Homo sapiens: one gene and its partners. The protein of the gene in region 2 interacts with the protein of the main gene of each other region in a biochemical or structural test. Each region holds a gene or a part of one and is shown on either strand. Other genes may lie near its edges. The genes, in order: PRKCE, AFAP1, PRKCG and PRKCB.

Region 1 (7,026 bases), on a different chromosome or scaffold from region 2:
TTAGCTGGGCGTGGTGGCGGGCACCTGTAGTCCCAGCTACTCGGGAGGCTGAGGCAGAAGAATGGTGTGAACCCGGGAGGCGGAGCTTGCAGTGAGTAAAGATGGCACCATTGCACTCCAGCCTGGGCGACAGAGCGAGACTCCTTCTAAAAAAAAAAAAAAAAACAAAAAACAAAAAACAAAACAAAACAAAAAAAACTCTTCTTGAAGCCAGGCGCAGTGGCTCACTTCTCTTATATAATCCCAGAATTTTGGGAGGCTGAGGCGGGTGGATCACTTAAGGTCAGGAGTTTAAGACCACCCTGGCCAACATGGTGAAACCCTGTTTCTACTAAAAATACAGAAATTAGTCGGGTGTGGTGGCTCATGCTTGTAATCCCAGCTACTTGGGAGGCTGAGACAGGAGAATCGCTTGAACCCGGGAGGCAGAGGTTGCAGTGATCCGATATCATGCCACTGCACTCCAGCCTGGGCAACAGAGCAAGACTCCATCTCAAATTTTAAAAAACTCTTCTTAAGCTTGATTACATTTTTAGTCTTATCTATCTCTTGGGGTCAGGAGCTCAGTGAGTCTACTCCTTGCTGGCAAATACAGGTGACTTTTCACTAACATAAAACTACCTCTTTGAGACTTCAAGGTGGGGTAGAGGTCAGGGATGAGGAGAGAGGAGATCCTCATTTCAGCATCTGGGTTTCATGATAGGCTTCTGTTTTTCCTCCTCTTCCCCAGCACAGTATTACAGATTTCAGTTATATTTCCTCTGGAGTTTCAATTTTGTTTAGATGTCAGTGAGTTACGATGAATTGTATGTTCCTGTCCTCCTGGTTCTCCCAGCACAGTACAGACTTTTGGCCACTTCACATGGTTTCTGACAGAAAACTAAATCTCAAACAGGTGCAACCATGCTGATTAGCATTATAATAGATTGTAATTACTAACAAGCCCATATATACCCAGAGGAACTTGGAGAGAAATATAATGTTTTGCCAAGTGTAGCTTTTATTTATGTAAAATATTGCAGGCCTGCTCTGGAGTTATTTTAGCCTAAGTGAAACCCCTGGAAGCTTTGTCTGAACATGCTTCAATAGCTCTATGAGTTCAGGCGCCGGAATTTGAAATTTCGTTTCTTGTTGCTGCCAACTACAAAGGGTTTTGTATCTAAAGCCCTGATGAGAATTTGAACTTCATTTAAACTCTGCAAATGGAGGACAAGTGGGCCTTTTTCTTCTTCCCTCACCATGGCACCTGGAATGGGCCCTGGGCACTCAGAGGGTAGAAAATTCCTACTTTTGGGAAATTCAGACTTGACGGAGATTCTTCAGCTTGATGCAAATTGCTATGTGGAAATAATATAGCATTCTCTCATAAGAACATCTTCAGGGATCTCATAGATTTTTATAAAATAAAATATCCTTTTCTCCTTCCTCCTCCTCCTCACTTCTTTCAACTGTACAGAAGGATTGTTTAAGAAATTCATTCAACTGGTTTCTATCGAGATGCCATGCTCCTCAGAGGCAGGAACTACACATACACAACTTTTGTGTTACCAAACCCCATATCTACCAACAGTGCTAGACCATAGTAGGTACTATAGAAATACACACTTGTTTTGTGTTCATTCATTCATTCATTCATTCAACAATGTGCCAAGAAATTTATTCATTCATTCAACAATTTATTCATTCATTCAACAAAGTGCCAGGCACTGTTTTGGGTGCTGAGATAAAGCGGTGAACAAAAAGCTCTACATTTATAGAGCGTCTGGTGTTCTGGTATTAGAAATAAACAACAAAGATAAATAAGAAAACTAAATAGCGTATCAGATAGAGGTAAGAGTAAAGAGTAAAAAAAAAAAAAGGCAGGAAAGGCGCATATGAAGCATAAAATAAGAGGGTGAACTTTTAGATAGGATTGCCAGAAAAGGCCTTACTGAGAACATAACATCTGAGCGAAGACTTGAGCCATGTGGATATCTGGGAAAAGGGCATTCTAAAAAAATGGGATGGCAAGGGTAAAGACTGAGGCAGGAGCATGGTAAGTGCATTTAAGGGGTGTCAAGTGGGTCAGGATAGCTAGAGAGGAATGAACAGGGAGAAGAGTGGCAAGTGATAGGGTCAGAGAGGTCACAGCAGAAGGCCTGACTTTGTTGGTCTTGTAAATTATGGTAAGGGATAATCTCACCTGAGAGATCTGTGAGCAGAGACAGGAGCTGAGAAGCCAGGACAGGTGGAAGCAATTCAGAGGCTGTTGAAATAATCCAGGTGTGAGATAATAGTGACTTGGACCCAAGTGAGGTCAGCAAAGGTATGGAAAGGATGTGATCTGAGATATATTTTGAAGGCAGAAAGAGCAGATGTTGCTGATGGATAAGATATGGGGCACCTGAGAATTACAGGCGTCAAGGATGGCCCCTCAAGGTTTTTGGCTGGGTAATTGGAAGGATGGAGTTGCCATTTCTTAAGCTGAGGAAGAAGGGCTTAGATTGAGGAGAGGGGAAAATAGGTATACAATATTAGGCATATGGAGTTTAAGATGCCCTTTACACAATGAAAGCTGAGGACCTGAAGGCAATCCCATATATAAAGTCTAGAGTTCAGGGTCAGGCATGAGCTGGAATTAGGAATTTAGTGTCAACAGCACTGAAAGTGTATTTAAATCCATGAAACTAGATGACATTGGCACAGTAAAACCAAAACACCAGCTCCCAAATATCCTCATTTCCAATTACCCATACCTCTTCAATAAATAATTAACCTTTGTCTACAATGACCGCAGCTTCTAGACTTTCCAGAACAATCTCATTTCAAGTAATTCTATTATCTTCCAAAGGGCAATTTGTTAAGTATAACTAAGTCAAATTTATTTTTAGAGTATGTAAGACTTTTCATATAAATACATTCACAAATCAAGGAGAAAAATATATTTCACTGGACCATATGTTCTGATTTAAGATTCTAAAACTATGAACACACAAATGACTCTTCAAATATTAATAAAATTGCTGAAATGTATTATAGCCAGACCACTTGCTACAAGCTTTATAGTTCCTTATTTAATTCTCATAGCAACTCTGAAAGTCAAGACCTACGACATTTCCATTTTACAGATGAAGAAACGGGCTTAAAAAGCCTAAGTCACATGCTCAAAGTCACACAACTAGTGAGTGGTGGAGATGCCTTCCAGTTAGAACTCACTGAATCCAGGGAGAGCGGTCCATTGAGGAGCCAGGGAATTCAGGGTCTCAAATATTCACTAAATCTGCTGCTGGTCAAAGACACTAAGAAGAAGAAACAGTTCAAACAACGCTTGACTGTCCATGAAGTTGAAGGCTAACTCAGGTCCTTAACTCTAGGGACCCAATGCCAAGAGGTTGTCTGTGATAGCACTGGGCCAAGAATGAATCCTTTGGGTAGTTGTTAAACAACCAGCTATGGACCAATGAGAGCAATATTGGATTACATGGTATTATGGGAGTAGGGGAAAGGGAGATCCAGGGACCCTTGGCTGCTGGGGAAATAATTCAGGGTATAGGCGCACACGAAGGAGGTATGGACAATTGCCAGCCCTTCCCTACCTCCTTACCCCCTTAGTAGTCCCTTCCCACCCCACTGTGTTTAAATGACAATGGAGGTTTCAGAAATCCTTTTAAAAAATTTTTTCCTACAAATGTCCTGAAGATAGAGATGTGCTCTAGAGTAACATATATCAAAGTGCGGTCAGGCTGCCATTGTAGGAGATGCAGCAGGGGTCCTGCTTAACTCAGGCTCCATTCGGGGCATCAGAATCAGCACTGCTAGAGGCTGTGCCCTGGCATCTGTGTTGCATGAATCTCCCCCAAGTGATTCTGGTGGGCCAAGGGAGAACGGCCTCAGAGCCTAACCTCTCCGAATGATGTACAGGCCTATCTCCCAGAGTCCAAACAGGGTATAGGCCTATCTCCCAGAGTCAGCAGGGGTGCCATCATTTTGAAAAGCTTTGCCGATGGGCTACTTGGGAAATACAAACCAGAAATGACACTTCTAGTGTCCCATTCTTTGCCAAATGAGATGGCCAGACTGAAGAGAGCTACTTTGGAGAATATGAAAACCTAGCTTTCTCGTGGCCTATATAATAATCAATTCAGTCAAAAACTCTCTCTAGGCCAGCCCCATGCTCATTTTGGGGGCTATAATAATAATAATTATAGTAGATATGCATTGAGCAGTTACTAGGGACCAAGCATTGGTGTATGCATTGTACATGTATTAACTCATTTTAATCCCCACAGTAAACCCATTTCATTATAGGGAGGTATATTTATTATCACCCACTTTGTACAGGGGAAGGAATGGAAATACGGAAGGTTAAGTCACTCGCTAAAGGTCATGAAAGTGGTAGATGGTAGAAGTGGGATTCAAGTCCAAGCAGTGTGACTCCAGACTTCGCTGCTCCGGGGAATCACCTCTCAAATGATGGCTTTCTGTACCTCTGGATTCTGAGTGCCTGCCTCTTCTACAGAATACAGCAAGGGAGTGACATTCGCCAAAGATGTCTTCAGAGGCAGGGCAGTAGAACAAAGAGGAAACTGAGCTCAGTGTGTAGACTACTGAAGCAATGATAGAGAAAAATCCAAAATGTGAACGAGCCAGCTAGCTGTCACCTGCATGCAGCCCTTCAAGCCCTAATCCTTGCTCCGCCTGCCTCCCACCCCTGTGCTAAATGCAATGCCAATCCATCCAGCATTCATTCAGCCTCTGCTTCTAACATGAATCCCAATACTTCTAGTTCACACAATTATTATTCTAAATCTTTCTTTAAAAATTATAAAGTTATACAGTCACATTTCAGGACATATCTATGTAAAAATGCTTGATCCATTAATTATCTGGAGCCCTCTCTGGCCTGCAATTTCTATTCTAGCCCAATGTTTCTCAAAGCAAGCCTGGTCTGGTCAGAATCTCTGGGACAGCTGGTTAAAAATGTAGATTCCCAGCTTATTCCAAATTGTAGCATCAAAAGCTCTCAAGGTTGGGCCAGAGGATCTATATTTTTATCTATATGGATCTATATAAATCTATATAGATCTATCTTTTATATGCCCTCCCTTACTGATTCTTATGTACATGAAAGTCTGAGTAGCGTTATTAACTGGTTCTTGGAAAACCCAGCTATAGCAATAGTGTTATAATAGATTTTACTTCAAAGCATCAGCAAAATCTTTCCTTCTCTTTGTAATGAGCTTTCTCTAAAGCAACCTCCTTTGTCATCACAACTGAAACATCTCTCATTATCTGGAGAATAATTATCTCAGCTTGGCTTTTACGCATTCTAGAATTCACCTCAGTTTTCTAAACTTTTTCCTACTCCAATGTTTCCGAAGTGTGGGCCCCACATCACTAATGATGTTCAGAGGCACTTGGAATGAACTTTGTTTCTGTATTGTAGAGCCCTGTTTATTTTAATGTGAACAAAGAAAAGTTATAACTACATGCTCCAAACCTGTGATTTCATGAATAGTGGGGCTTAAGAAAAGACTACGTGGAAAATAAAAGAATCAATTTTTTAAATATTAAGTAAATGAAAGCACAGGCAGTACTCAGAAAAAAGTCTTAAATTTGGGAAACCTTGTCCTGCCCACTCCTTTCTGACAGGTACACTCAGTTTCTGTCCTGCTCATCCATTCTCCAACCCTGACTACAGGATTGTCTGCCTTTATTCCTGCGGTGGCCATGCCAGGAACACTGCTCCTTCTTGTAGATACCTCTTTAAATATAACCTACTGTTTCACACTCAGCTCATGCCTCCTTCCAAAAACCCTCCTGGATTCTTCCAGTTCTCCCTACCTTTTTTTTTTTTTTTTTTTTTTTTTCAAGAGACAGGGTATCACTCTGTCACCCAGGCTGGAATGCCGTGGCCTGATGGTCAGATCATAGCACACTGCAGCCTTGAACTCCTGGACTCAAGTAATCCTCCCACTTTGGCCTCCTGAGTAGCTGGGACTACAGGCACACACCACACCGCAGGTCCAGATTTGGCTAATTTTTAAGTTTCTTGTAGTTATGGAGTCTTACTACGTTGCCTAGGCTGATCTTGAACTTCTGGACTCAAACGGTCCTCCCAGCTCAGCCTCCCAAGTAGTTGGGATTGCAGGCATGAGCCACAGTGCCTAGCCCACACTCCCTTTTTAAACTCTTAACACACTAATGGTACCACCTGTGTGGAACCTAATTGCTAGTTAAGTGTCTACATCAGGGTGTCCAACTTTTAGGCTTCCCTGGGCCACATCGGAAGAAGAATTGTCTTGGGCCACACATAAAATACACTAACACCAATGATAGCTGATAAGCTAAAAAAAAAAAAAATGCAAAAAAACTTATAACGTTTTAGGAAAGTGTACAAATTTGTGTTGGGCTGCATTCAAAGCCATCCCGGGCCACATGTGGCTAACAGGCCATGGGTTAGACAAGCTTGATGTATATGTGGGTACTTGGTGTCAATTCCTTGGTGAAATGGAAGCCCCTTGAGAGTAACCCAGGGCCTCATTTTCCTCTGGATGGCCCACAGTGAGAAGCTTCCCTGGTTAGACATGAGCACAAAACAGGAACTCCAGGAATACAAGTGAATTCAAAGTGCGGCAGAATTCGGTGTTCCGCAAAAATGAGAGAAACGGCTGCTTTATGCTATCCACATCCCCTTACTTCAGGCCAGATCTCTCAGCCACACCTGAGAAGGGTGTGTTTCTTCATTCCTGCCAGGTAAGGAGTGAAGAGACCTGAGCCCAGGGAATTCTACCCAAAGCTATGAAACCATGGGTTTACCCTGAATGTTAAGACTGGGAAAGGTGAACTTAGCCCAGCTGCAACTTGTCTCCATTTCCAGGGGCCAGTCACCCCTGCCAATGAGTCCCCACCTTCAGCCTGGAGGAACCAGAGTGGCTACAGCATCCTCTGGTGAAAACAGATGGGCATTCTGAACCTGCTCCACTGCTTGACTCATCCTTCAGACTTTGGGCTTCTCTATCTCAAGTTTTTTAGTTTGTCCAATAC
Region 2 (7,874 bases):
TGAGCCACCACACCTGGCCACAAGTGGTAATTTTAAACTAGGCTTCAAACCATTACACAAAGCCAAGTACATCTACTCAAGGCACTCTCAAAATTCCATTTACTCCCATTTTACTCTCCAAAATAAAATGTTAGGTTGAAACATACTTCACATGACACTTAAAAGATCAACAAAATGCTCCTGAAAAAAAGATCTGAGCTCAACAACTCCATTAATGAGAAAAAAACAAACCAATTGGATATAGTGAAGATGTTGCACATAAAACAATTATGAAGAATATGAAAGATATTGCCAAAAAGTTGCTTAAGGTTTCATCATAGATACTTGTCCTTAACTCTGAGATAAAGTATATACACATGTAACTCAACTTGTTTAAAAGGAAAAAAAGGGGAAGAAGAAAAGAAACTTCCACTTTAGAATCCACATTTTCAAAGGCTTCCGTTATTTACACCATTGCTGGTAAGAGAATTTTTCTCTACTATATTTGCTTGAAAGAATTAAAGGTGTAGGGCTGAAAAGATTCTTAGAAATTATGTAGTTTACGATCCTCAAAGGTGAGAAAAATGAAGCCCAGAAGAGAAGGCCTTCCAGGAAAATTCCAGAGCCGGACGTAGACCCAGTACATTGTTTCTGTTTTTATTTTGAGACGAAGTCTTACTCTATCGCCCAGGCTGGAGTGCAGTGGAGTTATTTCAACTCACTGCAACCTCCGCCTCCTGGGTTCAAGCTATTCTCCTGCCTCAGCCTCATGAGTAGCTGCGATTACAGGCACCCACCACCATGCCCGGCTAATTTTTGTATTTTTAGTAGAGACGGGGTTTCACCATGTTGGCCAGGCTGGTCTCGAACTCCTGACCTCAAATGATCCGCCTGCCTCGACCTCCCAAAGTTCTGGGATTACAGGCGTGAGCCACCGCGCCCGGCCGACCTGCTAAGTTTTAATCAAGTACTCTGCACTATGCAACAAACATTAGGAAGTAATAGAAAAAGATTAATCTAAAAACCCTCTGGAGAGTCAAAGAATTGCAGATTTAAAATAGCATGAATACTTGGATTCATGGTATTGAAAAAGGAGCTCGCATTTACCCGCATGCACAAACTGCGCCTGCCCACCTCTATCAGAGCATTTTTCAAGCTGTGCTACAGTTAACCATGTATTACCCAAAGCCAATCTGTCCTGGCAGATCATAAGCTCTTAAAGACCAGGACTTCAGGAGAACAAGCAAAGCTTCAGAGAGAAGGGAGCCACCTCAACAGAGTCCATAGCAATGGGTCGGCATGAGCTGATGACTGGAGGTGCGGCGTAGAGTGGGGGTCTGGGGCAGCGGAGGGCAGAGAAAGCAAAAGGGCCCGCATGACACGCTAGAGGGCTAGGAGCCACAGCTGCGGTAATTAGCTCAGTTTTGTCTTGTATGCCTGTTACTTAAACACCATCTCTTGTTCAGAAAGAACTTCAGGTTGGGTATTTGGACTCCTTGAGCCTTCTGCTGTTTGTCTCCGGGATCTTTAACTCTCCTAAAAGGGGAAAACTGTCCAGTTCGATTTTGCTTCCTGGGACATAACAGGTTTTTCAAAAGTTTGATGAAAGCATTCACTAAGGAGTGATTCCACTTTCTTTGGTGGCTGAGAAATACAGCGTCTGAGGGGCAGCATCAGGTCTTCCCATCAAGCTGAGGTCGGAGTCTCCCCACCCACGGACCTCACCCTCGCTCTCCCCTCATAAATCTGACCTCTAACTGTAACTGCCTTGGCCTCATTCCGTGGGTGTGGATGCTCCTGCTTGAAACGCATTTTCCAGCCCGCCAAATTCTTGGGAGAGTTTCTTCCACTCTCCAGGCGCTGAGAGCTACAAAGTTCAATCTGGCTTTCCAGATTTTTTTTTTCTTCCCATTACTAACGGAAGAAATCAAGAAGCTCCGGGCAGTAGGGCCCTGCTCCCTCCAATCAGAGCCCAGCCCGGGGCCAGAGCAGGAAGCGCGGCGGTGGGACGCGCGGTGACAGCCCCGCGCCCCCCGGGGCCCGCCGGCCAGGGGAGAGGACGGTGCGGCCGCTGCGCGACAGCTCCGGGCCCGCGCCTCTCGCTTCCACCCGCCGGGCAGGTGAGAGGATAAATCACGGGGCGGGGCAGTGCGCCCCCACCAACCGCGCCCCCCGCGCACGGACCCCCATTACACTCGCGTCCCAGGCGGGGTCGACCCAGACGAGCCACGGGGCGGCGCAGAGCCCCACTCGCAGGGCGGCCGGGACCCACGCGCGTGGGTCCACGCAACAACCTATAGGTGACAAAACACTCAGGAAGCCGTCATGCGGGGCCAAGAAAGAGCCCCCATCCAGAGTCACGGACCCCCTCGTCCGAGGGTCCGCGCAGTCCCCTCGGTAAGTCGGACGAAGCAGTCTCGCTACGGGGGAGGGCGGCGGAGCCTCCCACTCTTGGTGACCCGGACCCCGCCCCACGAGTGGGTCTTCGCAGGGCCCCCTCTGACGCACACGGGGACCAGCCACGCCGCGGGGGCACCGGGCAGGAGCCAGCGCCCGGGTCCACGCAGTCCCCTCCGGGCAGACGCGGGGAGCTGGGGAGCAGTGGGGACCGGCCCCCACCCGCAGGACGACCGGGACCCCCGCGCGGGCCCACGCGGCGTCGCAGCAGGCGCGGAGCCCCCGGTACCACCCGAGGCCGAGACAAAGCCCAGGCGCACGGACCCCGGACCCTGCGGAGCCCCGCTCGGAGCTTCCACGCCCGGGGCAGAGACCCCCGCCGGGTCCGGAGACCCTGCCGCCAGTCGCGCCGTCTCACCTCAGGCCGCCACCTCGCAGCGCTCGCTCCTCGCCGCGGCGCCTGGGCCGACTGGAGCGCAGCTGAACAGCCGACAGAGCCGCAGCCGCCTTAACAATGGAGCCCCGGGGCGGGGCCGCCGCCGCCGCCTCAGCCCGTGTACCCCGCTCGAGATCCGGCTCGGCTCGCGGAGCTGCAGCCGGCGTGGGGCTGCGGCCGGGACAGACACCACGCAGGCGCACACGGCCCCGCCCGCCGCCCGCCGTCCCGCCCCCAGCGGAGCCGGGCGCCCAGGGCCCGCCCCCCGGCCAATGGGAAGCGAGCTGCGCGGAGTGGGCGGGGCCTGAGGGAACAAAGGGAGGTTGGGCGGGGCGGTGCTGGGACTGGGCTTGCGGGGTCCCGCGGGAGGACCCGCCTCAAAGAGCCGGCCCGATCATCGCCTCCTAGAATACCCAGCTCAACGTCTACCTGGAGTCGGCTCTACAGGACGCGCTCATCTCAAACCCAGAGCTCAGGCTTTTAGGGCAGAGAGCGAGAGAAAGGCTTGCTTTACAGAAAGGGAAACTGAGGTCCAAGGAATAGGATTGCCTGCCGCTCGAAGAAACGTAATCCCATTCACTCGTTCATCTTGTAGTCATTCAGCAAACATTTGGAAGCACGTATGGCGGGCGTTAGGAGTGAAGTAGGGCCGGGCACGGTGGCTCACACCTGTAATCCCAGCACTTTGGGAGGCCGAGGCAGGTGGATCACTTGAGGTCAGGAGTTCGAAACCAGCCTGGCCAACAAGATGAAACCCCGTCTCTACTAAAAATACAAAAACTTTGCCGATTGTGGTGGCGCGTACCTGTAGTCCCAGCTACTGGGGAGGCTGAGGCAGGAGAATCGCTTGAACCCAGGAGGTGGAGGTTGCAGTGAGCCGAGATCGTGCCACTGCGTGCACTCCAGCCTGGGCGACAGAGTGAGACTCTGTCTCCAAAAAAAAAATTTTTTTTTAAAGATGTGAAGTAGAAGCGAACTTAGGCCCTCCCTGAAGGAGCTCGGCCAAGGAGTACCTGAGATGTCTCTGCATCTCTTTAAGGCCTGATAAAGGAACCAGGAGCAAGCAAGCACTAATCACTTCGCTTTCCTGCCTCAGAGCTTTCACGTGTTTGCTGTTCCCCACCTGAAATGCCAAGTACCAATGTATTTATTTATTTCTAGAAATGGGGTCTCCCTATGTTGCCCAGGCTGGTCTCAAACTCCTGGCCTCAAGCTATCGTCTCATCTCAGCCTCTCAAAGTGTTGGGATTACAGGCATGAACTACTGTCCCCAACCCTGATCATCTTTAAAACCTCTTTCCTCATCTTATTTGAGCTTCCTGCATCATGTGACCCCCACACACTTGGTTTTTCTGTACCTCCATAGCTGCTCCTCTGTGGGTCCCAGGGACCCACCCCCTTCTCTGCCCAACTTGTACATGTCTGGGCTCAGGCCAAATGCCCTTCCATTCACAGTGGGCACTGCTACAGGAAATCTCATGCCCTTCTGGGCTTCACAAACCATCCACATGCTCTGCTGCCTGCCAGAGACATCCATCCAAGTCAGATGCCCAGCCCTGACCTCTCCCAAAGGCCTAGCTGGACACCAGGGAGGCATCTCAAATTTTCTGCGGGCCAAAACAGAGTGCTTTATCAGTGCCCCAACCTGCTCATCCACATTCTTGTGATTCTCAGTAAACAGCCCCTCCATCCACCTAGCTGCTCAGGTGAAAATCTCAAATCCTCCTCCAGTCCTTCCTCCCCAAACCTCTCACGCAGCCCTCTGCCTTCCTAGGACGCTGAGCACCCCTCACTCCCAGCGCCAGCTGGGGTGCTGTCTGAGTGGCTGCCTCCCACTTGGCATGAAGTGTGACCTCTTGCCCAGTGCAGTGACTCACGCCTGTAATCCCAGCACTTTGGGAGGCCAAGGGGGGCAGATCACTTGAGGCCAGGAGTCTGGGACCAGCCTGGCCAATATGGTGAAACTAAAATACAACAATTAGCCAGGCATGGTAACACGTGCCTATAATCCCAGCTACCCAGGAGGCTGAGGCAGGAAAATTGCTTGAACCTAGGAGGCGGAGGTTGCAGTGAGCCAAAGTCACGCCGCTGCACTCCAGCCTGGGCAACAGAGCGAGACTCTATCACAAGTTAAAAAAAAAAAAAGAAGTGTGACCTCTCTAAGGCAAGGCAGTGTCCCACTCTGATTCACTTCCATGTGCAAAACAGGACCTGCGCCCTGAAGGCACTCACTCAGGGATGCTGCTGGGATGGGTGGATGCACAGGTGAGGTCTTGATGATGGCTGGGGCTGACCCTATCCCCATCTCCCTTCCCACACACACCTGCACACTCACTCACTTGCACACTCGCACCCACCACTGAAAGCCTGGCCCCTAATCTGATTTGCCTAACAAGGTCCCCCGATGAACATCACATGCTTCCCTACCTCTCCCCAGCTAGGGCCCCACTGTGTTCTGGGATGTACTCAGGGATCAGGAGAACACAACCTCAGGGAGTGAAAGGACATTCCAGGGTGCAGGCCTCTGCATCCCCCTCCATGCCCTCACCGCTGCCTAACACACCCTCACCCCTGTACCTGGCCAGCTCCTACCAACCCTTAAAGTCTCACCAAGTTCAGTGGTGGCAGCCACACCCTAAAGTGACTAACCCCCCCAGTGACCGATGACCTATGCCCTTGCATAATCTTCCTGACCTTGGGTATGAGCAGAACCTGTGACTGGCTTCTAACCCACAGAGCCTCTGGCAAAAGCAATGGATGTCACTGTCACAGTGCATCACCTTTGCACACTAGAGAGAGAGGTTCCACCTGCAGGCCCTGCAGGAGGGAGATGCCATGCTGAGAAAGGACCTTTGGAGGGGCCCCGTAAGCAAGGAAGCAAAAAGCTGGGCCCTTGCCAAGCGGGTCCAAGGAAATGAATTCTGCCAATAACCTCAGTGGACCTGGAAATGGATTCTGCCCTGGTTGAGCCTCAGATGAGGATGTAGCCCAGCTCCTTAGCGTGAGACCCCAAGCAGAGGACCTGCTAAAATGTGCTCAACTCCTCGCTTGCCAAAACTGGGTTAAATGTGTGTGTTGTTTTAAGCTTCTAAGTTTTTAGTTATTGCCTATGAAAGTGTTAAAATATAAGACAATAACGTAGGTCCCCTCCCCATCACACACTTTCTTCTTTCTGGCATTCATCACAACTATACTTATTGATTTAAAATCTGCCTCTTGGCTGGGCATGGTGGCTCAGGAGTTCCAGACCAGCCTGGCCAACATGTTGAAACCCCATCTCTACTAAAAATACAAAAATTAGCTAGGCATGGTGGTGCATGCCTGTAATCCCAGCTACTCGAGAGGCCGAGGCAGGAGAATTACTTGAACCTAGGAGGCAGAGGTTGCAGTGAGCCAAGATTGCACCATTGCACTCCAGCCTGAGTAACAAGAACAAAACTTTGTCTCCAAAAAAAAAAAAAAATTGTCTCTTGCATGAAGGCCCCATGAGAAGAAAAATGAAAACTCTTACTCATAACAGTGCCCCAAATGCCCAGCACAGTGAAGTTCTAGGGCAGTTGGTCGATGGTGGATGCTGCTGGTTGGAGGGCCCAACTGGCCCTGCCAGCTGCCTTCTCCCTGGTCACGTTCCATTATAGAGAACAGAATAGTTTCTTGCCTTTCCAGAGTTCCTCTTAGTGGGGATTGGCCAAGCAACATTGTCCTGCCCAGGGAGATATAAGTGGAAGTTGGCTGACAGGTTTCTAGCCGTGGTGTGCTGGGGCTGTTTGAACCAGAACATGAGAGCTGACCGTCCATTGTTCGGGAATTCTGCGAGTTGGTGTTCAACACATTCAGTACTTAAAAATATTAAATAATATAAACTTGCAAATTAAAAAATGCATTAGACCGGGTGCAGTGGCCCACGTATGTAATCCCAACACATTGGAAGGCTGAGGCAGGAAGATCACTTGAGCCCAGGAGTTCAAGACCAGCCTAGGCAAAAAAGGAAGACGCTGTCTCTACAAAAAATTTTAAAATTAGCTAGGCGTGGTGGTGTGTGCGTGCAATCCTAGCCACTCAGGAGGCTGAGGTGGGAGGATCGCTTGAGCCATCTGTTCAAGGCTCCAATGAGCTATGATAGTGCCACTGCACTCCAACCTGGGTGACAGAGCCAGACCCTGTCTCAGAAATAAATAAACATATTTTATATATTAATAAATATATAATAAATATATATTAATATATACATTTATGTATATAATTATATATTTATACATAAATATGTATTTTTATTTATTTATTTATTTATTTATTTATTTCAAGATGAAGTTTCACTCTTGTTGCCCAGGCTGGAGTGCAATGACGTGATCTGGGCTCACCACAACCTCCACCTCCCAGGTTCAAGTGATTTTCCTGCCTCAGTCTCTTCAGTAGCTGGGATTACAGGCTTGCACCACCACACCTGGCTAATTTTGTATTTTTAGTAGAGATGGGGTTTCTCCATGTTGGTCAGGCTGGTCTCAAGCGCCCGACCTCAGGTGATCTGCCCACCTCGGCCTCCCAAAGTGCTGGGATTACAGGTGTAAGCCACTGTGCCCAGCCTATGTTAGATATTTATATAATTATATATATTAATTTTATAAAATTATATATTAATTTTATATAATTAAATGTAAATATAAATATAAAACAAAGATAATAAATCATCAAAATGCATTATTTCCTGATTGTTTTACTCTTACTATGTTCTTAAAGATTTGCATCTCCCGCGTCAGTAGGTGGAAATCCTAAATCATGGTGTGCTGCTGACTTCTCTCTCCAACGCCGTAGTCAGCAATGTCATGGTGGTAGCTTGAAATCAGACATAGTAGGGGAACTTATAAAGAAATTGGCAACTGTTAAAAATCAGGACTTTCCCTCTCCCTCCTCTCCCCCAAAATACCAGCACACCCCTGATTTTGAGGGAAGTTTTTGCTCTCTTGGAAAAGGAAAAGACACAGCAGACGCTGTCTTTTTCTCAGCAGCAGGGATTATGATCATGAACATGGGTGTGATATCTGCAGCTATAGTGGCCATTGTG
Region 3 (7,026 bases), on a different chromosome or scaffold from region 2:
AACCAAGAGACACAGGCATGAGATCCGGAGAGATAAGAACAGCCAGGGGAAACAGGCAAATGGAGGGAGGAAGGGAAAAGAAAGGAGAGAGAGAGAGAAGAAAAGAAGAAGAAGAAGAAGAAGAAGAAGAAGAAGAAGGAGGAGGAGGAGGAGGAGGAGGAGGAGGAGGAGGAGGAGGAGGGAGGAGGAGGAGGAGGGAGACAGACAGAGAGCGAGACAGAGAGAGACAGAGAGGAGAGAGAGAGGAAGAGGGACAGAGAGAGAGAGAGACAGAGGGTGAGAGTGAGTGAGAGAGAGAGAGAGAGAGACAGGAAGAAGGAGAGGATACATGAAAATGATAGCAGATGAAATTCATACCCAGAGACCCAGGGACACACAGAGAAACAGAACAAATCATGAGGGAGATGGAGAAGAGGAGAGGGAAAAGGGGTAGGGGGAGAGAGGGAAGGGGAGAGAGGGACGGGGAGAGGGAAGGGTAGGGGGAGGGAGGGAAGGGGAGAGTGAAGGACAGAGGGAGGTCGGTAGGGGGAGGGAGGGAAGGGTAGAGGAGATGAAGGGGAAGAGGGAGGGAATGGGGGAAGAGAGGTTGCAGACCCAGAGAAAAGGGGAAATAGAAATTCAGAGGGTGGTACAGAGACCCCAGGTAAGAAGGCAGAAACTCAGAGAAGGGAGGAGACAGAGGAGACCCAGGGGGACAGAGATTCAGAAAGAGAGAAGGATAGAGACCCAGGAAACACACACCCAGAGGGAGGAATAAAGACCAAATATGGGGACAGAGACCCAGAGAAAAGGGAGGACAGAAAGCCAGCAGGAGAGGAGGGTGAGATGTAGCGTGTGTGTATGAGAGTGGACACAGGAGGGGACAGAGATGGGGGGTAGGGGGGTTGGACAAAGGCCCAAAAGTGTAGACAGAGATGCAGAAGGAGACACAGAGAAAAGGAAGAAACACAGAGAGCCCCATCGTATGCAGATGGAGGGGAGGCATGAGACAGAAACCAGAGAGACTGTCAGGGAGATGCAGAGAGAGCAGCTAGACGCAGAAGGTGCTGACATGGGCTGAAAATCTGCTATGGGCCAGGTGCTTTCTTCTGTGTCAACTCCATAACCCCTGAAGAGAGTTAAGCTCACAAAGTTTTGGTGACTCACCCAAGTTCACACAGGAAGAAAAGCTGCAGAAGTTGGGTTTACCTGACCCACCCAGTTCTAGACAGACAGACACCCTGGACTTTCAGCACTTCCTGCAAGCAGGGAGCTGGGGAGTGGGAGTCACAGAGAAGGATGAGACAGAGGCCATCTCCAGGCCTCGTGGCAACAGGGCTGGAAATCATTGTTCTAACAAAACCTATGCATCATATCAACTTTTCCAACAGATGGAAGTAAAGTGACTTCAGGAATGGGAGCATTTTTCTAATAGGCACAGAGACAGCAATGGGGTGTGTGGTTGTGAGCCTGGAGAAGCTGGGAGTCAGGGGGCTCTCACCCCCTTGCAGATGGCCACGGCTTCCCGGGAAAGCGACTTGGGGTAGGTGACAGTTTGTTCCATGATGGCCTGAAACAGCTCCTCCTCGTCCTCCCCATCGAAGGGAGGCTATCAAAGTGGAGGGGATAGAGAGTCAGGGACATGCCCAACTGCCTTTCCCCAAACCTTCCACACCCTCCTCACCCCACCGGGAACATGCCTGACCCATCACACGCCCCACATGCACACCTGACCACACCCTCAGGAGAGATCAGACCAAACCACCAAAGCTTGATCTCTCTCCTTCTCAGGTTCTCTCATTTCCTATCTCGGATGCCTCAGATCTGTGCATCTCTGTACTATTCTGCCTCTCTTTATCTGCTATGTAAATCAGCAGGCTGTTAATTATGCAACATGTCAGTTAAATAGAAGAGAGGAAAAACTGCAGGAAACACCCTAAAAGCATTCTCCTGGTTGGATGAGTAGTTCACAGTCTTCTGAGGTTACAAAAAATGATACCAAGGCAAAGATTTAGAGATGGGGTTTCATCATATTGGCCAGGCTGGTCTCAAACTCCTGACCTCAAGTGATCTGCCCACTTCGGCCTCCCAAAGTGCTTGGATTACAGGCGTGAGCCACCATGTCCGGCCAAATTTTTTTTTAACTTCTAACTAAAATTTAGCATTCCCTTCAGTTATGAATGCAGGCAGCAGCAGTGCTTGTGGCTTCATTATCAATAGTAATCACAGGTATTTTCTCATCACATGAGAGTTGCAGATATTCCAAATTATTAGTCATTGCTACATCAAAATTACTGTTAGAGCTCCTTTTTACTTTACTACCATTAGAACTTACTACTTAATGAATTAATAAGAAATTGCACATATGTCCATTTTCCAATTTTAAATATTTAGACAACTGTATACATTGAATTTAGTTGGTTGTTAGATTCAATTAAATTTTAAAAGTTTTGGTGACTATCTTTCAAAATGATTGATTTCTTTTGTTTGTTTGTTCTTTTGAGATGGGGTCTTGCTCTGTCGCCTGTGCTGGAACACAGTGGCATACTCATAGTTCAGTGTAACCTTGAGTTCTTGGGCTCATGTGACCCTCCTGCCTCAGCCTCCCCAGTAGCTGGGACTATAGGTGCCCACTACCATAGCCAGCTAAGAAGATGATCAAGAGTGTGGTAACCAATTTTTTTAGTTGTAGTACACTCAGCAGTCCAGGAATCCAATCAAGCTGATTTAGAATGTATGTAATTGTCTAAGCTGACACAGCCAGTAAGTGGCAAAGTGAGGATTTGAACCTTGGTTTTCTGCGTATGTATTATTCTATTTTGTGCATTGAAAAACATTCTTCTGAGAAGGGATCCATAGGCTTAACCAGACTGCTACTTTACCATCTAGGGAGAAAGAATCCATGGTAACAGAACAAACAAAACAAAACAAAACAAAACACCTGGTCTACATTAAGACAACACTTCAGAACCATGGACAGCGCTATTCGAGCACAACCTTCTGGGCTCCTTTCTAACTGGCTCCTCCTGAGATCCAGGTGCCCCTCTCTGTCTCTTTTAGCCAAGCCAGCTTCTCCCCACCTTCCCTTACCTGTCCTGCCAACATCTCATACAGCAGAACTCCAAAGGACCACCAATCGACAGACTTCCCATAGGGCTGGTAGGCAATGATCTAGGGGAGGTGGAAGGCAGGGAATCATGATGCGTTCTTTAGGAAGCCTAGGACCCCTCTGGCCTCACCCCCTGGGAGCGCTACCCACGTTAAGTGCTTTCAGCACAAGCTCTTCCCACTCTGAATATTTATTTCATCAGGTGATTTTTTGTTTCGTTTTTTTTTTTTTTTTTTTTTTTTTTGACAGGGTCTCACTCTGTTGCCCAGGCTGGAGCACAGTAGTGTGATCACGGCTCACTCAGCCTCAACTTCCCAGGCTCAGGTAATTCTTCTACCTCAGCCTCCCAAGTAGGTGGGCTACAGGTGTGCACCACCACACCTGGCTAATTTTTGCACTTTTAGTGAAGATAGGTCCTCACTATGTTGCCCAGGCTGGTCTCAAACTCCCGGACTCAAGCAATTGGCCTGCCTCCGCCTCCCAAAGTGCTGGGATTATAGGAGTGAGCCACCACGCCCAGCCTCCACTCTGAATATTTTGGCCAGCGATCTAACTTTTGGAATATTCTGGAAACAAAGCATACCTACTTCAAACATTCATTTGGCCTCAAATAGAAAGACTACCTAACGGCCAAGTCACTGGTTCCACCCACCTAGAATATTTGTGTCAGAGTCAGGAATATGTGTGTAGTTTTCAAATTTTCTTATCTTTTTTCTTTTTTGAGATGGAGTCTCACTCTGTAGCCCAGGATGCAGTGCAGTGGTGCAATCTTGGCTCACTGCAACCTCCACCTCCTGGGTTCAAGTGATTCTCCTGCCTCAGCCTCCTGAGTAGCTGGGTTGACAGGCACACATCACCATGTCCAGCTAATTTTTGTATTTTTAGTAGAGACGGGGTTTCACCATGTTGGCTAGGCTGGTCTTGAATTCCTGACCTCAAGTGATCTGCCTGCCTCAGCTTCCCAAAGTGCTGGGATTACAGGCATGAGCCACCATGTCTGGCCTCAGTTTTCAAATTTTCTACAGATGATTCTGATTACCAGCCAGGTTTTGTGATCACTGACATTGATTATTTGGGCACGAGTCAGGCACATCCTCCCAAGTAGCTGGGACTACAGGCATGTGCTTTATCCATCTATACGTACATTCAGAACATCAGCCCCACCCCTTTAACAAAGTCGGGTAATACCCCACCCACTTAAAATACTCATAGGACAGCATCTGCTCTCCCAGAACCTTAGGGATCTCACCCTGCCCTTTTTCTTTTTCTTTTTTTTTTTTTTTTTGAGACAGGGTCTCACTCTGTTGCCCAGACTGGAGTGCAGTGGCGCGATCTCAGCTCACTGCAACCTCCACCTCCCGGGTTCAAGTAATTCTCCTGCCTCAGCCTCCCAAGTAGCTGGGACTACAGGCACCCGCCACCACGCCTGGCTAATTTTTGTATTTTTAGTAGAGATGGAGTTTCACCATGTTAGTCAGGCTGGTCTCAAACTCCTGACCTTGTGATCCGCCCGCCTCAGCCTCCCAAGTGCTGGAATTACAGGTGTGAGCCACTGCACCCGGCTTTTTTTTTTTTTTTTTTTTGAGATGAAGTTATGAAGTTATGCTCTGTCACCCAGGCTGGAGTGCAGTGGTGTGATCTCAGCTCACTGCAACCTCCGCCTCCCCGGTTCAAGCGATTCTCCTGCCTCAGCCTCCCGAATAGCTGGGATTACAGGCGCATGCCACCACGCCCGGCTAATTTGTGTAATTTTGTTAGAGATGAGGTTTCACCATGTTGGCCAGGCTGGTCTCAAACTCCTGACCTCAAGTGATCCACCTGCCTCAGCCTCCCAAAGTGCTGGGATTACAGGTGTGAGCCACCGCGCCCAGCTGATCCTGCCCTCTTGAAAAATGCAGCACAGAAGTCCAGTACACTTACATCAGAGAAACACGTACAACACAGGAAATAAGCTTCCATCCAACTGAATACTCCAGGGAGAGCCCTGCCCAGTTTAAAGTATTCAGAAGATAGTCCGGACATGTTCAGTGTTGGCAGGGGACAGGCCACACCCACTCAGAGTACACTAGAAATCGTCTGCCCCTTCTCAGAAGGATCCAGGGTCAGGTCCTACTTGGAATTCCTACGAGCTGGTCCCACTCTCCTGGAACATTCACCCACAGGTGCTGCCCACCTTACCTATTTAGAGACCCAGCTGGGCCCACCTGGCAGGCTCAGTGCCAAGCTCACCTGTGCTGGAGGCTGGAGGAACGACTGGCTGTGTAAGAAGGCCACAACTCATGACAAGGTCTGAGGGTCAGGCCTCACCCGTGGTGAATACTGGACCATCAGCTACACCCTCTAAGGGATCTCAAAGCGTGACCAGAGCAGCAGGGTTGGGGTTACCTCCGGGGCTATGTAGTCCGGGGTCCCGCAGAAGGTGCGGGTTGTCGTCCCGGGGAAGACGTTCTCCTTACACATGCCAAAGTCAGTGATCTTGATGTGTCCCTCAGCATCCAGCATCACATTGTCCAGCTTCAGGTCCCTGGACGATGCAGGGGTGTGGGGCAGGAATTGCAAGAAGTGTTGAGTTCAGCAGTCTAGAGCCACATATTCAAATCCCTTCCCTTCCAGGGGCGTGATTTCCTCCACGGAAATTCCTGGGGCTGCTCACCTGTAGATGATGCCCTGATTGTGAAGGAAGAAGAGGCCGATAGCGATTTCTGCCGCGTAGAACCTGGAGGACGGGGTGGGTGGGGACGTCAGAAGGTCAGTGGCTGGATCCTGCCCCCTTCCACCACCCCGACCATTCTCTGTTGGCCGAGACTCACGCTGCATGGGGCTCCTTAAACTTGCCCAGCTGTTGAATGTGGTACATCAAGTCTCCCCCGGTGACGTACTCCATCACGAAATACAGGCGGTCCTGCGGAGAAGTGCATGGGCTTAGAGGCGGGATCCATCTACCCAGAGTAGGAGAATTTCTTTCCTGATCACTCAGGACAGACGTGGAAGGTTCCAGATGCACCCAACCAGAAATTCAGAGCACCTAGCCACATCCCTGGGAGGGCCCTAAGGTGCTAATCCTGCTACCTCAGAATCTCCACCCGCCAGACCACCGCCAACTATCAGACCACGTGTTCTGGCCCCGCCTTCTCAGAATTGAAGACTGAAGCCCACCATTCGCTCGAAATCCGGGAACACCAAAATCTCTTTCCACAGCCACTCACACACAGATGCAATTCTGGCTTCCTACTAAGAATCAAAGTTGCAGCTGGGCGTGGTGGCTCACGCCTGTAATCCCAGCACTTTGGGAGGCCGAAGCGGGTGGATCACCTGAGGTCAGGAGTTCCAGACCAGCCTGGCCAACGTGGCGAAACCCGGTCTCTACTAAAAATACAAAAATCAGCTGAGTGTGGTGGCGGGAGCCTGTAATCCCAGCTACTCAGGAGGCTGAGACGGGAGAATTGCTTAAACCCGGGAGGCGGAGGTTGCAGTGAGCCGAGATCGCGCCATTGCACTCCAGCCTGGGGGACAAGAGCTAACTCCTTCTCAAAAAAAAAAAAAGGAATCAAAGTTGCTCATACATATATTTTAATCCAGGTGGCTGGCCACTCTCATTCGGAGCCCCTGGAAGTAAAGTCACGCCCTCTTAAAATCTTGCAGGTTCTGACTCTCTGCCCCTAAGTCGCAATCCTAAGGAAATAATGTCCTGTTTCTGATGTGTCCTTCAGTCAGAATCCAAAAGTGATGACCCCGTCACTCGGAGCCCAATTCTGGGCAGGCCCACTAGGAAGGCACCCTCCTCCACTGTGCCCCTTTGCTGAAAATTCCAGAGCACTGGCTACAGCCACTCAAGACCAAGCTCCCCAGGGAAACAGGCATCTGGCCACTCCCCCCAAGAGCCCATCCACCTGGCCACGCCCCCAAGGAACTCAACCGCTTCACGACACCTCCGCAGG
Region 4 (7,981 bases), on a different chromosome or scaffold from region 2:
CAACCTCAAAGAAGAAATTACACATTCCGGTGCCAAGACACCATTGGCATTTTGTTTGAGGGGTCAAAGTTCTAGAAAACAATCCAAATTTGTTTGCACCAGGGCCTAAGTTGTTGCCACTTAAAGAGACTTGAGGAGTCCTCTGGTGTGGTGCAGAGGATCCAAATCTTGGTAAGACAGGCTGGGTAGGTTGGCAGGGCTCACTGAGCCCACCGGGACCCCGATCTCAGAAGAGTATGCAAGAGTCTCAGAGGAGCACAGTGCCATGCTGCCAGCAAGCAAACATTCTGCACCACTGACGATGCCACCTACACTCACTAGGGATCACTTTACTTTTCCCTGGAGGGTGGAGGTGCAGCCACAAAACTGTCAGTCAGTGCTAAATCACGTCAGACTCTTCCACACTCAAATACTTTCTTTTGATTTAAACCCAGCTCACCAGGGTGGTGGTCACTTTGCCCCTAAAGATACAATACCCCAGAAATGTGCCGTTTCTTACCAAACTCAATCTTACCAAGCCCAAGAGTGAAAAATTAAAATTTAAATTAAAAAGAAAACATAACACACAAACTTTCCAGATGAGAGGTTGCAAACTTAAATGCCCACAGGGGCCAGAAATGGGTGAAGTGTTCCCCACTGGGATCAACTGAGACAAAATGGTAAGGCTGTTCCCCATCTACGACGACGGCTCTCAGCTCCAAACGATTGTTTTCAAGCGAAAGTGAGACCATTTCTCAGCAAAGTTAAAGTTGGAAATTAGGATGTGTATGTGAAATCTCCCAGTTCTAAAACGTTCACATCAAATTCACAAGTAAGACACCCTAAGGGCTACACAGAGCTGCGGGTAACTTTTGGTCCTGGAGAGCCAATTTGCAATCTGTCTTTTAGACATGAGCCCCAAAGACGGGGGAGGGGGACACTTTACACGTGATCAACTCACCACCAGCAGGTTTGATACCCCTGGTTAGAGTCCAGGATCTCAAGCCAGATGCAAGAACTCAGGTAACCAGTGCCCTGGAGACCTTTCTGTTTCAACCCAGAAGATAGGGTGATTTAAACCAGGATCTGAGAAACACTCCCTCTGGAAATACTTCTTTCAGAGAGAGAGGAGGCCCAGGCGACAAACACAGTCGCCTTTCTAGGGGATGCACCATCTGCAGAGGAGCGGCAGCCACCTGCAGAGACCTCTGCAAGGCAGGGAGAGGCAGAACCTCCCTGGGTGAGATAAGGAAGGGACATGGGCAGAGAAAGGGGAACTAAGGAGGACAGGTTCTCCCAGAAACGTCCCGGGAAAACACTTTCTCCCCCAGCGGAACTGACCATGCCAGGATTGCTTCAGGAGACCGCTTTGACTCTTCCAGAGCCGGGAAGGCAGGAAGGGTAGGTGAACTTCCTTGGCATGTAAGACTCCCAAGCGCCATCGGCCCCAGTCACACACACACCCCTTGAAAGGACCCTGTTGTGGTGAAGAATTCCTAGCCTGGGAGGTCACTCCGACCAACGTGATTCTTTCACTCTCTGCCTAACTCAGTAACTTCTTCTATAAAGTATTTTTCACCCTCTCTTCCCACAAATAGCATCCCCAAAGCCCCAGAGCCTACCTTGGCACTGGAATCCCTGCTTCCCGAAGCCCCTGCAAAAGCAGAAGGAGGTGTATGTCAGGCAGCCCGGGGGGCCCAGCCTCCAGCTAGTTACCCACAGAGTCACCCGCCTTCCTCCCTGCCTCTGTACCCCAGGTGCAAACTCCCAGCCACAGGCGGGTGCCCAAGAGTCTTCCGCCTTTGTGGGGGTAGGTGGGAGCTCGGCTGTAACCCCCATCTGCCTTCACTCCTGCAGAAGAGAGGAGGCTGCGACCACCAGGTGGCGGGATAGTGGGGAGCGTTTCCGTCGGGGTAGGGGCTGAAGGCAGGCGACAGATGTACCCATAGATGCCCCGAGCACCCTCGGGAAAAGAGAAGAGATAAAGACGCATTCAGAGGGAGGGCGAGAGTGACCCCGCGGCGGTGGTGTCCTCTGGGAGGGGGACTGGGAAGGAGGAAAGGATGCCCCACTACTGGAGGGACTGGGGAAGAAAGGGGCCCGCAGTGATGTGACCGAGGAGTGGAAAGGGGAACCCAGGCCCTCGGGGAGGGGCAATGGGAGATAACACAGGGCGCTGCCCGGAGGCACAGAGGAGTGAGAAAGGATGTCCCATGCCCGCAGGGAGATAGAGAAGGACACCCAGGGCGCCGCCCCCCCCGGAAACAAGGGGTGGGGGGCGAGGGCTCCTCGCGCCCGGAAGCAGGCGGAGAGATAGGGAACCCCGGGTCGGAGAGCACCCGAGGCGCTGCCCTCCAGGGCAGGCACAGACCCCGCGCGCTCCTAGTCAGGTGGAGCAAAGGCTCCCGCGACGCCGCCCCTGGGCGCTCTAGAGGCGCCTGAGAGCAGGAGAGGGCAGGAGGCGCCCCGCGGCGGCCCGTCTGGGACCAGGGTGGGGACAGGGCAACGGCAGGACTGTCCATCCGGGAGTCCCGGGCAGCAGGGTCCGGAGCCGGGAGTCCGGAGACGCGGGGTCCCAGGGTGCGGAGGGCGCGGAGGGCGCAGAGGGCGCGGAGAGGGGGTCCCTGGCGCGGCGCTGCCCTCGGGGGCCCGGGAAGGTGCCCTGCGCGCGCGCGCTCACCAGATGAAGTCGGTGCAGTGGCTGCAGAAGGTGGGCTGCTTGAAGAAGCGGGCGGTGAATTTGTGGTTCTTGACCTCATGCACGTTCTTCTGCCGGAGGGCGCCTTTGCGGGCGAAGCGCACGGTGCTCTCCTCGCCCTCGCTCGGCGGCGGCCCCGCAGCCGGGTCAGCCATCTTGCGCGCGGGGAGCCGGAGCCCGAGAGGTGCCGGCCCCGGGGCCGCGGGACCGCGGGCTGCGGGCCGGGGAGGCGCGGGAGGCGGCGGCCGCTGCTGCACCCGGGGCCGCGGGCGCTTCCCCTGCGCCGGCTCTGGCGGCCGCGGCGCGCGGAGCCGGGGCTGTCACTCGCCCAGCTGCTGCCGCTCGTCCAGCTGCGCTTGGCACCGCTGGCCCCAGCTGCGGGGGAGGGAGGCGGAGCCCCGGGCCAGCCCCGCCCTCCTCATTTGCATCGCGCCCAGGCCCCGCCCAGCGCTGCCAGCTGCTTTACATATCGGCGCCCGGGCTACCGCGGGCCTCGCGGCTAAGCGTGCACAGCCGCAGCTCTGCAGCGCCGGGACCGCAGCCCGGGGTCGTCGGACCCGAGCCTCGCCCCCCACCCCACCCCGTCCTCGGCCCCCGGGGCTGCGTTCAGGAGATGTGCCCAGGGGAGGAGCGAGAGTGGAAAGACCTACGGGGCGAAGGGGAGCGGGTGGAAGGGGTGGGGCGCAGCGAATTCCACCCCGGCCTCTGCGGAGACTGGTACCCATCCACCCCCATCCATCCCATTGGTCATTCTGCACGCGTCTCCTGGAGGGATGGGCTCCCGCTGTCACTCATTCGGAAAGGCTTGTGGCCGCACACACTTACACACACATACACACACACGTTCTGCAGAGGTAGGGGAGGAGCGATCTTTATTTTATATGTCTCTAACTCCACCACAGAGAAGATTCTTGGCTTTGCTTGCCTCCTGCACGTTTGGAAGAGAACTCCCTACCTTCTGTCCATCCCCTCTGCAAAACGACTCCGTTTCCCCAACTGTAACATAGGGCTAATAGTGTGGGGAGGAAGGATTTCAGTAGATCAATATTTTTCCAAATTTCATTCATTTCTGACTCGTCTTCACAAATTCTGGTCGTATTTGTGCACCCTCTGGGGGAAAAAAAGCCTATCTCTTTTGGTCTGAGTTTGAACAGCAAGAGGTATCTACATTATTAAAATATCTCCAGGTGCCGTCATCTGTCCTAAGCATCTTCGACTGAAGTCATCTTTTATTTGTTAAGAGAGGAAATTAATAAATGCTAGAGGGGTGTTAAAGACATTACTATCCAACCAGGACTCTCTCCTTGATGTGATCTGAAGGTAACTGAAAGGGTAATAATTGTCTACAATGTGTAATTCAATGTTATTTAGCGCCCTGTTCATGCACAAGGCCTAAAGATACCCACTGCCACCATGTCCCCCACTCTGGGAACGCAGAGCTTCATTAGGCTGTGAGCTCCTTCACCAGACCTAGGCTCTGTGAGAGCAGGGGGGCTGTTCACCACCATGTCGCCCAGCACCAAGCTCAGTGCCTGACACCTCCCAAGACCCCAGTAAATATTGGTTGATTGAGTGAGGGCATGGATGAACAAGTGAATGAATGAAGACTTAAAGGTCGGCACTTCTTACCCCCACTCACACCCAGTAGGTGTTTAATAATAAATATCAAGTGATTGCTGGGCATCAGGTACTTGTGCTGTCTTATTTAGCCCCCGCAACAACCCTATGTAGATCTGGTAACTTTCATTATGGATAAGGATGGGGAGGTTCAGAGTGATTAAGATACACCCACAGTCATACCGTTGCTGAATGGTGATTGGGCTGGCCTGACTACAAAGCATCCTGGTGACAAAGGGGTGAACCTGAGTAGTGGTGGATGAAGGGGGGCAGGCTGGAGTTGCACGAGCTCAGGTCCCACTATGACAATTTTGCCTGGAAGCTGCTGAGTGGTAAGTCATTATTAGGTAGCATGTCGAGAGCAAGGGCTGCAATAATAGAATGTCCCTCTCCTACATAGTAATTCAAAGGTAAGGAGGAAAAAATAGCATTCACTTTTAAGGTTGACATGTTTGGGAAACTGGATGTGCCTGTCTATTATTAGTCCTTGAAGAGGCCCCACCACCTCCCAGGGAGGCTTGGGAAAACATCCCAGGAGACATTGCTGCTGAAGTAGATTTCCTTTGAACTGATGAGCTGGAAGCTCACAGCCCACATCCTGCCTTTTGAATGAAGTGCCCTGGATGACTTTGGTCTGTAACAACAAACAGTACCTCATGGCGCCGGGGCCTGGGGATGCAAGGGCTGTGGATGGAAAAGAGCCACTTGGTTCCTGAAGGCGTTGCACCAAGTGAGGATGAGAAATGTGGTTCCCATTGGACCCAGATTCCTGTAGGTCAGGGTCTCAAACTGGTGGCTCCAGATGCTCTATTTTTTTTAAGCTAGCCCAGTGGGTTGTTGTTGTTGTTGTTGTTTTTTAAGTTCACGGGTCATAGAATTTTACTTAAATATCCAGATTCTGACTTATCTAGGAAAAAAGATAGAGCTAAATGGAGCCTACATTCCTCCCTCACTCATACATTTGTTCTTTCAATCAACAAATTGCTTATTAAGCACCTACTGTGTGCTGTTCCAGATACTGTTAAACAAACCAGACAAAGGTCCCTGCCCTAGTGGAGCTTATAGTCTAATGGGGAAGGGGGAGTAATAACCTAACCAACTAACGAATCCATACCTGGTGGTGTATAATAGAATGTTTGTAAATAAAAATAAAGCATTATTATAAAGACCACAGGGAAATCCTTTATAATATGGGGACATCTGAGTAAGGCCTGAATAAAGTGAGAGGGTGAGCCAGGGGACTATCGAGAGTTTCCAGACAGAGAAAACAGAAAATGCAAAGAGCCTAGGGGAGTATCAAGCTTGGTATGTTGGAGAAATAGCGAGAAGGCCTCAGTGGTTGGATGAACAGAGAGGAGAGAGGACTTATGAGATGAGGTCAGGGAGGTAGCAGGGCCCCAAAGGGCTTTGCAAATGTGATAAGGAGTTTGGATTTCACTCCAGTGAATGGAAGCCATTGGAGGGTTGGAAGCTGAGGAGTGGCCTGATACAACTTATGGGGTTTTCATTTTAAAAGCTTACCCTAGCTACTATGTGGAAATTAGAGGAGAAAGGGTGGAGGCAGGAAGAGCAGTGAAGAGGTCAACTGAGCAGATCAGGCAAGAGATTAGGGCAACATGGCATAGTGCCAACAGGAGCTGCAGGGCAGCAGCTCCCCGTAGATTGGGCATGGGTCCTCCTTGCCACCAGAGCCCCCCAGGCCCACTCTGCTCATGAAGGAGTGAATGCTGGTCACTTGAAAGATTTCAGAGGCAGTGAGGGGGCAGGTTGCTGTGGCTGAGAATGGAGTCCAAGGTCCCTTTGCTCCAGACCTGTGGCTGCCATAAAAAATTATAACAGAACAGGGTGGCTAGAAATAACAAAAATTTATTCTCTCATCATTCTGGAGGCCAGAAACCATAAGTCACAGTGTCAGCAGGGCCACATTCCCTCTGGAGGTTTCAGAGGGGAACGCTTCCTTGCCTTTTGTGGCTTCTGGAGGCTGTCAGCATTCCCTGGCTTCCCTGGCTTGTGGTCACATCGCTCCCATCCTCCTCTGTCTTTATATCACCCTCTCCTCTGTGTGCCTATCTTCACCCCTTCTGTTTCTCTAATATCCCCTGTATATCTCTTTTTTCTTTTCTTTTTTTTTTTTTTCCAAGATGGAGTTTTGCTCTTGTTGCCCAGGCTGGAGTGAAATGGCATGGTCTCGGCTCACTGCAGTCTCTGCCTCCCGGGTTCAAGTGATTTTCCTGCCTCAGCCTCCCAAGTAGCTGGGATTACAGGCACCCGCCACCATGCCCGGCTAATCTTTGTACTTTTAGTAGAGACAGGGTTTCACCATGTTGGCCAGGCTGGTCTCAAACTCCTGACCTCAGGTGATCTGCCTGCCTTCAGCCTCCCAAAGTGCTAGGATTACAGGCGTGAGCCACTGCACTGGCCCTATACCTTGTATATCTTTTATATGAACACTGGTCCTTGGATTTAGGGCTTCACTGGATAATCCGAGATGATCTCTTCATCTCAAAATCCTTAATATAGTTATGCCTGCAAAGACCCCTTCGCCAAATAAAATGACATTCACAAGTTCCAGGAATTATAACATGGATGTACCTTCTTGGGGGCTACCATTTAAATGACTACAGTGCATAACCCTGGGCAAGTCACTTACTTCCTCCTGTGTCTCATTTTCCTCTTCTCTAAGGTAGGACAAGGATACAGTAGTTTGCCTCTCAACCCCTTTATTCTTTTGTTTTTTGTTTTGTTTTGTTTTGGTTTTGGTTTTTTTTGAGACAGAGTCTTGCTCTGTCACCCAGGCTGGAGTGGAGTGATGCGACCTCGGCTCACTGCAACTTCCGCCTCCCAGGTTCAACCCATTCTCCTGCCTCGGCCTCCCAAGTAGCTGGGATTACAGGCGTGCACCACCGTGCACAGCTAATTTTTGTATTTTTAGTAGAGACAGGGTTTCACCATGTTGGCCAGGCTGGTCTGAAATTTCTGACCTCAGGTGATCCACCCGCCTCAGCCTCCCAAAGTGCTGGGATTACAGGCATGAGCCACCGCGCTCGGCCTCAATCCCTTTGTTCTAAGGCTGCACTCTTCAACACAGTTGTCACAGTACCCACATGTGGCTGCTGAGCATTTGAAATGTGGCAACTCTCAAGATCACTTAGAACTGCTACTAATTGTAACTAAAAACCTATAGTAAGAAACAAGAAAAGGCTAGGTGTGGTGGAGGCTTATGCCTCCACTTTGGGAAGCCAAGGTGGGAAGACTACTTGAGTCTAGGAGTTTGAGACCAGTTGAGGCAATATAGTGAGACCCCATCTCCACAAAAACTTTTTTTTAATTAGCCAGACAGGTAGTCCACACCTGTAGTCCCAGCTACTCAGGAGGCTGAGGCAGGAGGATCATTTGAACCTGAGAGTTGGGGGTTGCAGTGAGCCATGATTGTGCCACCACACTCCAGTTTGGGTGACAGAGTGAGACCTTATCTCAAAAAAGAAAGACAGGAAGAGAGACAGGGGGAGAAAGAAGGAAAGAGATAGAGGGGAAGGAAGGCAGGAAGGCAGGGAGAGAGGAAGGGAGAGAGGGGAGTATGGCCCCTTCAAAGGGAAAAAATAAACCAACAGAAACTGTCCCAGAGAATGATCAGAAGGTGAGCCTACTAGACAATGGCTTTAAAGCAACTATATTGAAGATGCTCAA

What was found.
Region 1: the proteins of AFAP1 (region 2) and PRKCE form a complex in vitro, tested with the Homo sapiens proteins (one study listed by BioGRID).
Region 3: the proteins of AFAP1 (region 2) and PRKCG form a complex in vitro, tested with the Homo sapiens proteins (one study listed by BioGRID).
Region 4: the proteins of AFAP1 (region 2) and PRKCB form a complex in vitro, tested with the Homo sapiens proteins (one study listed by BioGRID).

The regions. Positions count from the first base shown.
Region 1 is NC_000002.12:45,654,670-45,661,695, reverse strand, and holds part of PRKCE (protein kinase C epsilon type), read right to left. Parts: intron 1-7,026.
Region 2 is NC_000004.12:7,936,862-7,944,735, forward strand, and holds the start of AFAP1 (actin filament-associated protein 1), read right to left. Parts: upstream 3,001-7,874; 5' UTR 2,795-3,000; exon of another isoform or gene 2,140-2,794; intron 1,929-2,139; exon of another isoform or gene 1,792-1,928; coding exon of another isoform or gene 1,731-1,791; intron 1-1,730. UniProt on the Homo sapiens protein: Can cross-link actin filaments into both network and bundle structures. May modulate changes in actin filament integrity and induce lamellipodia formation.
Region 3 is NC_000019.10:53,899,197-53,906,222, reverse strand, and holds part of PRKCG (protein kinase C gamma type), read right to left. Parts: intron 5,991-7,026; coding exon 5,899-5,990; intron 5,805-5,898; coding exon 5,742-5,804; intron 5,613-5,741; coding exon 5,474-5,612; intron 3,151-5,473; coding exon 3,070-3,150; intron 1,589-3,069; coding exon 1,481-1,588; intron 1-1,480. UniProt on the Homo sapiens protein: Calcium-activated, phospholipid- and diacylglycerol (DAG)-dependent serine/threonine-protein kinase that plays diverse roles in neuronal cells and eye tissues, such as regulation of the neuronal receptors GRIA4/GLUR4 and GRIN1/NMDAR1, modulation of receptors and neuronal functions related to sensitivity to opiates, pain and alcohol, mediation of synaptic function and cell survival after ischemia, and inhibition of gap junction activity after oxidative stress.
Region 4 is NC_000016.10:23,831,027-23,839,007, reverse strand, and holds the start of PRKCB (protein kinase C beta type), read right to left. Parts: upstream 3,026-7,981; 5' UTR 2,833-3,025; coding exon 2,660-2,832; intron 1,634-2,659; coding exon 1,602-1,633; intron 1-1,601. UniProt on the Homo sapiens protein: Calcium-activated, phospholipid- and diacylglycerol (DAG)-dependent serine/threonine-protein kinase involved in various cellular processes such as regulation of the B-cell receptor (BCR) signalosome, oxidative stress-induced apoptosis, androgen receptor-dependent transcription regulation, insulin signaling and endothelial cells proliferation.